Regions from separate parts of the Homo sapiens genome. Here region 1 is linked to region 2. Evidence: fine-mapped expression QTL. A gene starts in region 2. The other region holds a variant in brackets. All regions are shown on one strand. Distances are between the middles of the regions. Region 1 overlaps LINC02520 (long intergenic non-protein coding RNA 2520). Region 2 holds the start of CMTR1 (cap methyltransferase 1).

Region 1 (5,372 bases), 94 kb before region 2:
TGGCCTGCCCCAGCAGGCTCCAGGCAGGAAGCCAGTCCAGCCTGCCATGCCCTCTCTCTGCTGTGCCTCCTCCCTCACCCAAGTCACACTCCACACGCTCAGGTTCCTTTGTGGTGGGTGTTTTGATTAATTTTATTCTAATTAATTCAGTAATCTCAAGCTGTTTGCAAAATCTTGCACCAAGCACTGCTCTGTGATGGATCTGCAGAAGGGGCTACAGACAAACACCCGAATCGTGTTGTTTCTCCATTGGCACTATATATATCTTACGGCTGGGAGAGAGTGGGCTGGGGGAGAGCAGCAGGACGCCGCCTGCCTGCCGGCTTTTCACTGTCATTCCCCAAATGTCCTCTATTTTCCTGCGGCCAGGGCACGGGTTCTATGGTTGGGGCACAGGGACCCCGAAGGCTTTCCTACAGGCAGGCAGGCTTGGTGGCAGGGCTTTGTGCCCTACTCTGCCTCTTCCTCTTTGTGGAGCCTCGGGTGGTTTGCTTAACCAGCTTTGGCACCCTCACCTAGAAAACGGAGATGAGCTGGGCGCGGTGGCTCATGCCTGTAATCCCAGCACTTTGGGAGGCCGAGGTGGGTGAATCACAAGGTCAGGAGTTCAAGACCAGCCTGGCCAAGATGATGAAACCCTGTCTCTACTAAAAATACAAAAATTAGCCGGACGTGGTGGCAGGTGCCTGTAATCCCAGCTACTTGGGAGGCTGAGGCAGGAGAATCACTCGAACCCAGGAGGCGGAGGTTGCGGTGAGCTGATATTATGCCACTGCACTCCAGCCTGGGCAACAGAGCAAGACTCCATCTCAAAACAAAACAAAAAAAAGGAAACGGAGATGAAACGCCTACCCTGGCCACCTCAGAGGCACTGAGAGCCAGCTGGAGTATGGGGACAGGCTTGGGAAACTGAAAAGACCTTAGGGTACTGCTGATGTCTTTATCCGAGAAGCCGTAGAGGGTGATGGGGAAGAGTCAAACCAGATTTCCTGGGTTGGAATCCTGCCTCAACCTCTTACTAGTGGGGAGCTTTGCAGAGGCTACTTCACCTCTCTGTGCCTCAGTTTCCATGCCTGTAAAATGAGGGTGAAAACAGAACCCATCTCAGAGGGTTCTTATGATTAAATGAATATGAGCAAAGCTTTTAGAACAGTGCTTGGCATGGAGTCAAGCACTATACAGGATAACTATTATTATGGTTATCTTAGTTGTCTTCATCCCTTCAAAATCTTCCTAGTGCATTGTAAATGCCTTCTCTGATTAACCAGAATGCAACTTGCACTCCAGTCTCAAAGCACTCATCCTTCCCTCATTTCTCTGAACATGTTAGTCTTGGCCCATAACTGGTTTCCTCTCCAAGTGGCCAATATCTCTCACCCCAGGTCCATAACTCCCACCATGGTAGGATTAAGGGGGCTTGGTCCATGACGGTTCCAGTAGTCCTATCCAAAGGGGACTCGGAGGCAACGAGATGATTAGAAGGGAGTTCATCTTAAAGCTGAGTCTGCTAAGTACACACAATGATTCTACTTAAAATCCAAATACAGGAAGGTTTTCAAAAATTGAGGCAATGTCAGTTGTGTATATGAAGGGTTATTTTTCTTTTCTGTGGAAGGACATTGGGAGGGACATATGGAAATGGGGGACATCCCTCCCAGTACACTTTTGGCACCTGTACTCATGCCATGAAGAGGAAAACAACTGACCCAACCAACAGGGCAATAGAACAGGGTGGGAGGTGATGCTTTAGGTGGGTAGTCAGGGAAGGCCTCTATGAAGAGGTGTCAAGCCCTGAGAAAAGGGAGAAAAGCCCATTGTGTGGCAATATGAGTAAAGAGCACTCCAGGAAGAGGGTACAGTGTGCAAAGGCTTGAGGCGGGAATGAACTTGGGGGTATTTGGGAGACAAAGAACAGCAGCTGAGGGGGACAGCAGGATAAATTAGAGTGACGAGGCCACAAGGTCCAGGCCAAGGGCCATCAGCCATAATAAGGAGTTGGATTTCATTCTAAAGATGCTGGGAGACTTTGGAGAGTTTTAAGCCAGAAAGTGACCTGATTTCATTTATGTTTTTAAAAGACCACATTGGCTGCCGCTCTAGCATTCATCCATCCATCCTTCCATCTGCTTATTAACAAGATTTCCTGCATACCTACTGTGTGCCAGGGTCTGTGCTGGGCACTTGCAGTTTAGAGTTGAGTAAGATATTGCCCTCCCTCGTGGAGCTCAGCATGGATGAGAAAACGAACTTCTGGTGCTTTCAGAAGCAGGGGTTGAGTGCCTGGCAGAGCAGGGTGTGCACTGCAGAGGAAGGACTGGGGCCCTGGGATTGGGGACAGGAAGAGCTATTGAGAACAGTGGCTCTCCAAAGTGAGTGGCATCAGAATCTCCTGAAGGGCTTGTTAAAAACAGATTGCTGGCCGGGCACGGTGGCTCACACCTGTAATCCCAGCACTTTGGGAGGCCAAGGCGGGCAGATCACCTGAGGTCAGGAGTTCAAGACCAGCCTGACCAATATGGTGAAACCCCGTCTCTACTAAAAATACAAAAATTAGACGGGCGTGGTGGTGCGCACCTGTAGTCCCAGCTACTCGGGAGGCTGAGACAGGAGAATTGCTTGAACCCCGGAGGCGGAGGTTGCAG[T/A]GAGCAGAGATCATGTCACTGTACTCCAGCCTGTGACAGAGCAAGACTCTGTCTCAAAAAAAAACCCAAAAAACAAAAAAAGATTGCTGTGCACCACCTCCCCCCACCTGCCACACAGATTCTGATTCAGTAAACCTGGGGTGGGCCTGAGAATTTGCATTTTTAGCAGGTTTCTAGCTGGTTCTGATGCTGCTGGCCCAGGGACTGCGCTTTGAGAACCACTGTGTAGGAGGATCTCAACTTCTATGGACCAGAAAGGGCTATTTCTAGGAATTCATCTCAGCACCCGAGGTGTGGACAGCTCCCCAACTGGCTCTTCATTGTCATCCACCACTCAGGCCTGAGACAGGGAGCCCCCTGAGGACAGCATTTCCCCGCCATCTCCCTCCACCCACCACCCACCGCTTGGTTTCCACTCAGACCCCTGCCTCTCCCTGCTCCCTCCTTGGGAAGCACATCCTCAAACTCTGTCCTGCAACTGAAGGAGCAATTTCACTCTCAGTCACCTTCACTGATTCCTTTCAGGATGCAGAAGACCTCAGTTAACACTGCACCCGCCTCCTGGCCAGCCAACTGCCCCCATCTGTTCCTTTCCCAAAACTGCACCCTGGGCTGGGGGACTTGGGATCCCCCAGCTCTGTTATCTGCATGCCACAGGCCTGATTCATTTCACAGCCACATGGTCAGATGTCTCCTCACCCCCTTCTCTTCCTGCCCCCGCCTTTCTCTGAGCTCTGAATGTCCCCTTTTCACCCAGTCATATTTCCCCAGCCCCCTCCTCTCCTCACTCCTTTGCCCATCCCATCTGTGATAAATTTGGCAGATTACCCCATGAAAGCCTAAATTATCAGTGTTCCTGGTCACTTTGGCCCTTAGTCCCTTAGAAAGACAGTGTTGAAATTGCAAGCATTCATCAGAATCTGAATTTCAAAATTTCTAAAAATTCCCTAATTGAGGTTGTCTAAACTATCCTTCAAGACCAGAACTCTCCTTGGATTTTTCAGCAGGCGCTTGAGCCCAATCCCTCCTCCTCCACCAGATTGCAAACTCCCTGAGAACAAGAAGCTCAGCCGCTCAACTCTGAGCCACTCAGTCTAGCACCGCGACCAGCTCCTAGTAAGTACCTAGGAGGTAGCCACTTTATTATGACTATTACCATGATGGCATTGTTGCTGCTGTTATTGCTATCTGCTCTGCTCTCCTCATGCCTTGCTCAATGCCTTGCACACAGTAGGGTCTCAGCAAAGTCTTACAGGTACACAGATGACAAATGTATAGTTGTCATCCTCACCTCACTGCTCTTGCCTCCGACTACCTCATTCGCCTGTAACAGCTTCTCCCTCATTTGCCTTTTTTTTTCTTTTCTTAACTGCTGCGATGTTCTGAGCCAGAGCATTTGAAAGATTTTTGTGCAATAACTCCCCACCCCCACGCCTAGATCTTCGAGGCCTAGGAGATTAGTGTCAGGAGATTTGGTGGGTAATGGGTTCTGGGCAGTAGAAAACAGTCCCCTTTACAGAGATACAATTATACAGGTTATACTTCCCTGAGTTCAGACACAGCCACAGACCTCGGGGAACCTGGTGTCGGCACAGATGGTACATGGGGCCACATTATATGGAATATTCTCCACTTGCTATAAAACTGTTGACAAATATAGGAAACGAGATGTTTTTCTTTTCCATGTTTTCTTTTCTTTTCCTTAGCCAAACACTGCGGGCCCTCATGAGTCACAAAAGTTTTGAGATATTACTCAGAAATATAGGAGGAAAGCTCCATATTTCCCCCGTCAAAGGTCTGGTTTTCTTATTTATTTATTCACATGCCACTGGGTAAATTGAACCCTGAACAATATTAAAAGGAAATAAACATATCTCTCAGCCGCTCACGGACCTAGCACTCACCAGGCAGCGGGATTAGCAACAAGCCTCCCCAGGTGGGACAAAGCTGCAGTATGGAGGGGGGGTGCGGGTCCAGGGGCCTGCAAAGCGGGGTCCCTGCAGCTCCCTACTCCAGGCAAGTCGAAGCTCCCTCTCCCCTGGCCAGCCTCCAAGACCCACAACTGACGCACACATTCACTCTGTGGCCATGGCAGCTCCCAGAAGGTGGAAAGACTCCATTTTTATTTCCACCTTTCCGGTACCTGTGCCTCTCACTGACCCATTCCAACACGCACACAAGAACACACACACACACACACACATACATACACACATACACACACACATCAGCAATGACGAACCAGCCCCAAACCATAGCGGAATGTCATTTCAGAGTCCTATCTGCATGGTTGAAATCAGAAGTTGGGATGCCTGAGACCATTCATATGGCCTGTTTACAGTCACTGAGAATTGATACTTACTTTGGGGGAAGAAAAAAATATACGTTTAAAATATATATATATACACACACACACACACACACACACACACACACACATCCCCACACACACACTCAGATACATATCGGTGGTGGATAGATGGATCTTTCTCACCCTGAAAACCATGACAGATGAGTTTTGTTTGGGCCTGTATGCATTTTAAAGGTGCATTTAAACTCACTAAATTAGAATCTGGATTGGTGGCGGTGCCCACCCAACCCTGGCCTCCTCTTCCCCTCAACAGGAAGGCAGCCAACCAGGTTCTCATTCAGAATTTAATCTTGCCTGAGTGGCGTGACCACTTCTGTCTCTGCTCAGTTTCTTTTTTTTTTTTTTTTTTTTGAGACGGA
Region 2 (5,372 bases):
AGAAAGTCATGGATCAACTCCACAAGCCACTGGGGGATAAAGCCTTGGTACCTGTAGTTATTCTACACTTTTGATGCAATATTGGCCATGCATGACAATGTACACTGAAAATGAACTATAAAACCGAATAAATATTAACCAATATTCCCAAGGTGAAGGGACCATCCCAGAATGACTGTTTCATCAGCATTATTTTACCAAAACAATTAAGAAATTACATAATATCATAAAAATACTGGTTTTGGTTTACTTCATAATGTTTGAAAACATGAAAGAATTGGGAAAGTTTTTAAGCAGAGTAGGGAATGGAAGCAGTGAAATGACTTAAGACCGAGGAAACACAAGAGCGGGAAAGTTATTGGGACTGGAGGTAGCTATACCACAGAACTCAGTTACGAAAACAACAATTTTAAGGACAGAAATCCACCTCCACAAAAAAGAGTGGAAACCAGCTGGGCGCGGTGGCTCACGCCTGTAATCCCAGCACTTTGGGAGAAAGAGGTGGGCGGATCACCTGAGGTCAGGAGTTCAAGACCAGCCTGGCCAACATGGTGAAACCCCATCTCTAGTAAAAAAAACACAAAAATTAGCCGGGTGGTGGCACATGCCTGTAGTCCCAGCTACTCAGGAGAACCGCTTGAATTGCTGAGGCGGAGGTTGCAGTGAGCCGAGATCACACCACTGCACTCCACCCTGGGCGACAGAGCAAGACTCCGTCTCAAAAAAACAAAAAAGAAAGAAACAGGCACCATGCCACCATCAATCATCCATCCCCATGGTTAGGTACATGAGAGATAAGCACGAGAAAAAAATAAGATGGAATGAAGTGATTATGAAACCCTGAAATCTTAACGAATTATCAAGTTAAAGAGCAAGCAAGAGAAGTAGTGAATACAGTGTGGCTTACACACAACTGATTGGCTGTAGAGAACTCAGAAAAGAGGACTCAATACAGGGTGGGCGACAAGCTGGGAAACAATCCTTAGGGAAGGCGAGGTACAGCAAGAAAGTATTGAAACCCAAAAGTGTCACTGATGCTCCCAACCTCGTAAAACCCTGGATCACATGTTTCAGTTCTCTCCAACTCAAGGAAGAGCCAATCAACCCAATGCACAACCGCCACCTTCCTGAGAAAGCAGCCTCTTACTAGATACAGGCAGGGGCTGTCCCAGGGAAGAACCGGAGACACTGAGCAAACAGAAAGCAAGACCAAGCTAAGCCACATTTCACTTTAAGCCGTAGTCTTAAATACCCCCAAAAGGCCCCCAGGGTGAGATAAAGGAAGGCTCATCACAGAGCTTGCTTCTAGCCATTGCAAGCGCTAAAAGCTTTTAATTCTTAAGTGACTCGGGGGGAGACTGGAAGTACAGCAAACTCAAAGCGGACTGTTGAACAGCTGTGTGAAAGGCAGGAGAGGCGGATGCTCCTCCCCAAACCACATCACCTTAGATTTGGGCCTTCCAAATCATCTCATCCAACCCTATCATCTTCCACGGGAAAAGACTGCGGCCACAGAGGTGAAGGCCACACAGCTAACCAGTGCCCTGCTCAAGTGACCCACACATGCCAGCAGAATGCTCTGGCAGGGAACTTCTAAGCGGAAGGCAAGCGGCCTGGTTCTACCTGCTGCTTCCGCACAGAAGGGGTTCAAATCCCCTCTGCAGTCTTCTCTCCCTGGGCCTCGGTTTGGCACTGCCACCCCTAATCACAGAGAGAAGAGATAAGCTCCCATGTCTCCCGGCCAGTCCCTTCATTTGAAGATAACATGAGCGTGTGAATGTGTGCGCAGAGACGTGTGTCAGCGGCAGCTCGGGCTCCAGGGAGCCGGCGTTGGGGGTGGGAGGAGGAGGGAAGACATAAGGGGCCAGAAGGCGAGGAGACCCATAACCGCGGGCGGGGGGCCCAGGCGGCGGTGGAGGGGAGAAGGATGCTGAGCCCGCGCGCCCGCCCGCTTGCTCCCCCCGGGCCGCGCGTCGGCACTCACGCTGAGGGGAGAGAGCGAGCTGCCGGGGAGCGGAGGGGGGGTCAGGCCGACACTGTCGCCGCCGCTGCCAGAGCCGCCGCCTCCTCCCTCAGTTTCGTTTCCCCACAAGCCAGCCCGGGTCCGCCAGCCGCACCGTCGCGCTCGGGTCCAGTACTGCGGGCAGCGCAGCCTGATGACGTCACGGACAGCGCCGCGCCTCGGTCCTCCCCCGGCCGGGTCCCGGCCCCGGGAAAGGCAGCTGAGGTTTGGCCCGCTCCACCTCTCAACCTGGGAGGTCCAGGGGCGCCTGCGCGGAAAAGCCGCCCGGAAAAGGCTGCAAAAGCAAAAGTAACTATCTCCTCCTTTGGCTCTGAGGAAGAGAAACCAATACAAAAATTGTAAGTGCTAGGTGCCCTCACACGACCTCATCTTACTTAATCTTATCATTATCTTCATTTTACAGACTAAGAACAAGTTCAGAGAGGTAGATGGTAAACTGGTTGAGCGAACGCAGTGTTCTTGTTCCCTGCTGTATCCCCAACATCCAGCCTATGGGACATCTCAACAGATTTTGAACGAAGGACGGGAGGACAGAAGGAATGCCGCCTGTAGCATCTTACCATATGGGCACAGTTGGCTCTCCATCTCAAACCTCTCTTCTGATTTTCAGGCCAATATGGCCAAACGTCTGTTGGACATCCTCACTCAGTCACCTCAAACCCCATGAATTCAAATTTCACCTTATGTTCTTCCATCAGCTCACTTTTTTCCTGGTGAAGGGCGCTGCCATCCATCCTGTTGGTCCAGCTAGAAATCTGAGGAATCTCCCTCTTCTTCATACCCCAAAGTTTCTCATACACTTAATTGCGCTTACCTCCTAATTGTCTTTCAAATCCATCCATTCACCCCCATCCCCATTGCCACAATTCATGCACTTACCCCCTCTCGGCAGAATTTCTCCAGTAACTCCAAACTCCCGTGACTGTCTCCAGTTGTGATCCCTCTAATGCGTTCTTCACAAAACCAAAGTGATTTTTATAATTTTCAACACCTGTGAAAAGAAGGGAATTTAAAATTGATTAATTAAACCTGATCCTGTCACAACCCAACAATGATTAAAATCCATCAATGATGTCCCATTGCTCTTAGAATAAAGCTAATGTCCTTAAAATGGCCTCTGAGACCCTCCAGCATGACCCCTTCTTCAGGTATGCCTTGTACTGCTATCCCTTAGTTCTCCCCATGCTGACTCTTCTCAGTTTATCAAATATGCCGTGTCTCCGCCGGGCGCGGTGGCTCACACCTGTAATCCCAGCACGTGGGGAGGCTGAGGCGGATGGATCACCTGAGGTCAGGAGTTCGAGACCAGCCTGGCCAACATGGTGAAATCCCGTCTCTACTGAAGATACAAAAAAAGTAGCTGGGTGTGGTGGTGCGCACCTATAGTCCCAGCTACTCAGTAGGGTAAGTCAGGAAAATCGCTTGAACCTGGGAAGCAGAGGTTGCAGTGAGCAGAGATTGCACCACTGCACTCCAGCCTGGGCGACAGAGCCAGACTCCATCTCAAAAACAGAACACAACAAAACAAAACATGCCATGTCTCTTAAGAGTTCAGCCCCCTGCCTGGATCATGCTTCTCCTCTTTGCTGGGCTAATGTCCATTTATCCCTCAGGAGTCACTTTAGTGTCCCTATCTCGAAATATTTCCTGATGTCACAAATCTAGGTTGGGAGACCCACCTCTGAGCTCCTAAAGCACTCTGTCCTTCCACTATCAAAGCACTTACCACGGTGTTGTATAATGGCCTGTGGACTCATCTGCCTCCCCGACTCAGCTGTAAACTCTGTACAGGAAAGATTGTCTGTCTGTATTAAATTCACAAGATTTAACAGAGGCTGGTGGTCAGTGCTCAATAGATATTTACTGAATCTGTGGAAGTGTGGAATATGAATGAAGGTTGAGTGATATGTTCAAGATTACAGAGCTAGGAAGCAGCAAACAGGTATTTACCTAGTTCTCTATGTTCTAAAGTTTAGTGTCCTTCTTTCCACCTCACTGAGGCTTCTTAGCATGCATTATGACATGAACACTTTTGGTAATCTTGTAGAGCTTATGGACCCATTCTCAAAATAATAATTTGAAGGGTATAAAATAAGGTATAGGAAATGAGTTATATTGAAAAAGTTAACATATTTAGCAAATTTAATGATTTAATTTTTATGTAAAGCATTAAATAATGAGAGAATGCATTCAAAATATAGTCAAGTTAAAGTTAAATTTTATTTTTTAATGTATATGAGTATACCCAATGAATAGTGCTGGAAAAAACAGATAAATATATAGGGAAACACGAACTTTGAATCTTTTTTTTTTTTTTTTTTTTTTTGAGACGGAGTCTTGCTCTGTCACCCAGGCTGGAGTGCAGTGGCACAATCTCCGCTCACTGCAAGCACCACCTCCAGGTTCACGCCATTCTCCTGCCTCAGCCTGCCGAGTAGCTGGGACTACAGGCGCCCGCCACCACGCCCGGCTAATTTTTTGTATTTTTAATAGAGATGGGGTTTCACCGTGTTAGCCAGGATGGTCTTGATCTCCTGACCTCGTGATCCGCCCACCTCAGCCTCCCAAAGGACTGGGATTACAGGCGTGAGCCAACGTGCTCGGCCCACTTTGATTCTTACTTTATGCCAAATGCAAATTAAGATACATCATAGACCTAAGCATAAAATCTAAAATGATAAAGCTTTTAACAGAAAACACAGGAAAATATTTTTGCAGACTTAGGGTAGACAAAGATTTTTTTTTACATGGGACCCAGGGAGCATTAATCGAAAGAAAAATAATGATAAAATGGAGTTCATCAAAATAAAAGGCTTCTACTCAACAAAAGACACCATTAAGACATTGAATAATCAAACCACAGAATGAGAGGAAAAGATTCACAATACATATATCTGACAAATGACTTATCTCTTATATATATATATACACACACACACATATATATATAAAATACCCAAGAATAAAAAGAAAAACAGAAATTTCCAATTCCTGTCAAAATGGAAACAGCACATTTCATTCTGTTTCTCCCACTGAATGTAATTTAAAACCTTAGACAGAATGCATGGAACAACTATCTGAGGATTCTGAAAAGTAAATGGTAAAGTATAAAGTAAATGGCAGGAATATGGAGAAAGGAAACCAGAAGTCAAAGAACTGTCAAATCAAGAGTGAGTTTCCCAATTTTTTTCCCCTTCGTTTTCTCCCAACTTGTACTAAAAGGCAACCGAAAATGCACATATTTTGCACAACAATGCGAATATAGTTAACACTGCTGAACTGTACACTGTTAAATTACATTTGGCTTAAATCTGCCTCCATACATAACATAATCTAATAATATGTAAAC

The links. PIP is the estimated chance that this variant, and not a neighbour inherited with it, causes the effect. A credible set is the group of variants that fine-mapping cannot tell apart.
Region 1: its variant is the best candidate, but not a certain one, in a credible set for the expression of CMTR1 in blood mononuclear cells (TOPMed, PIP 0.79).

The regions. Positions count from the first base shown.
Region 1 is chr6:37,523,521-37,528,892 of GRCh38, reverse strand. All of the region lies in intron 1 of LINC02520 (long intergenic non-protein coding RNA 2520), which reads right to left. Among named protein-coding and RNA genes, the nearest start is that of LINC02520, 19 kb to the right of the region's middle. The variant T/A (reference allele first, on the strand shown) is at 2,643.
Region 2 is chr6:37,429,990-37,435,361 of GRCh38, reverse strand. CMTR1 (cap methyltransferase 1) reads right to left here and starts at 2,141. Exons shown (of 24, transcript NM_015050.3): 1 at 1,985-2,141. LOC107986531 (a long non-coding RNA gene) reads left to right here and starts at 2,139. Exons shown (of 2, transcript NR_171666.1): 1 at 2,139-2,311; 2 at 2,427-3,134. RefSeq lists a silencer at 1,796-1,985 and enhancers at 1,986-2,265, 1,958-2,459.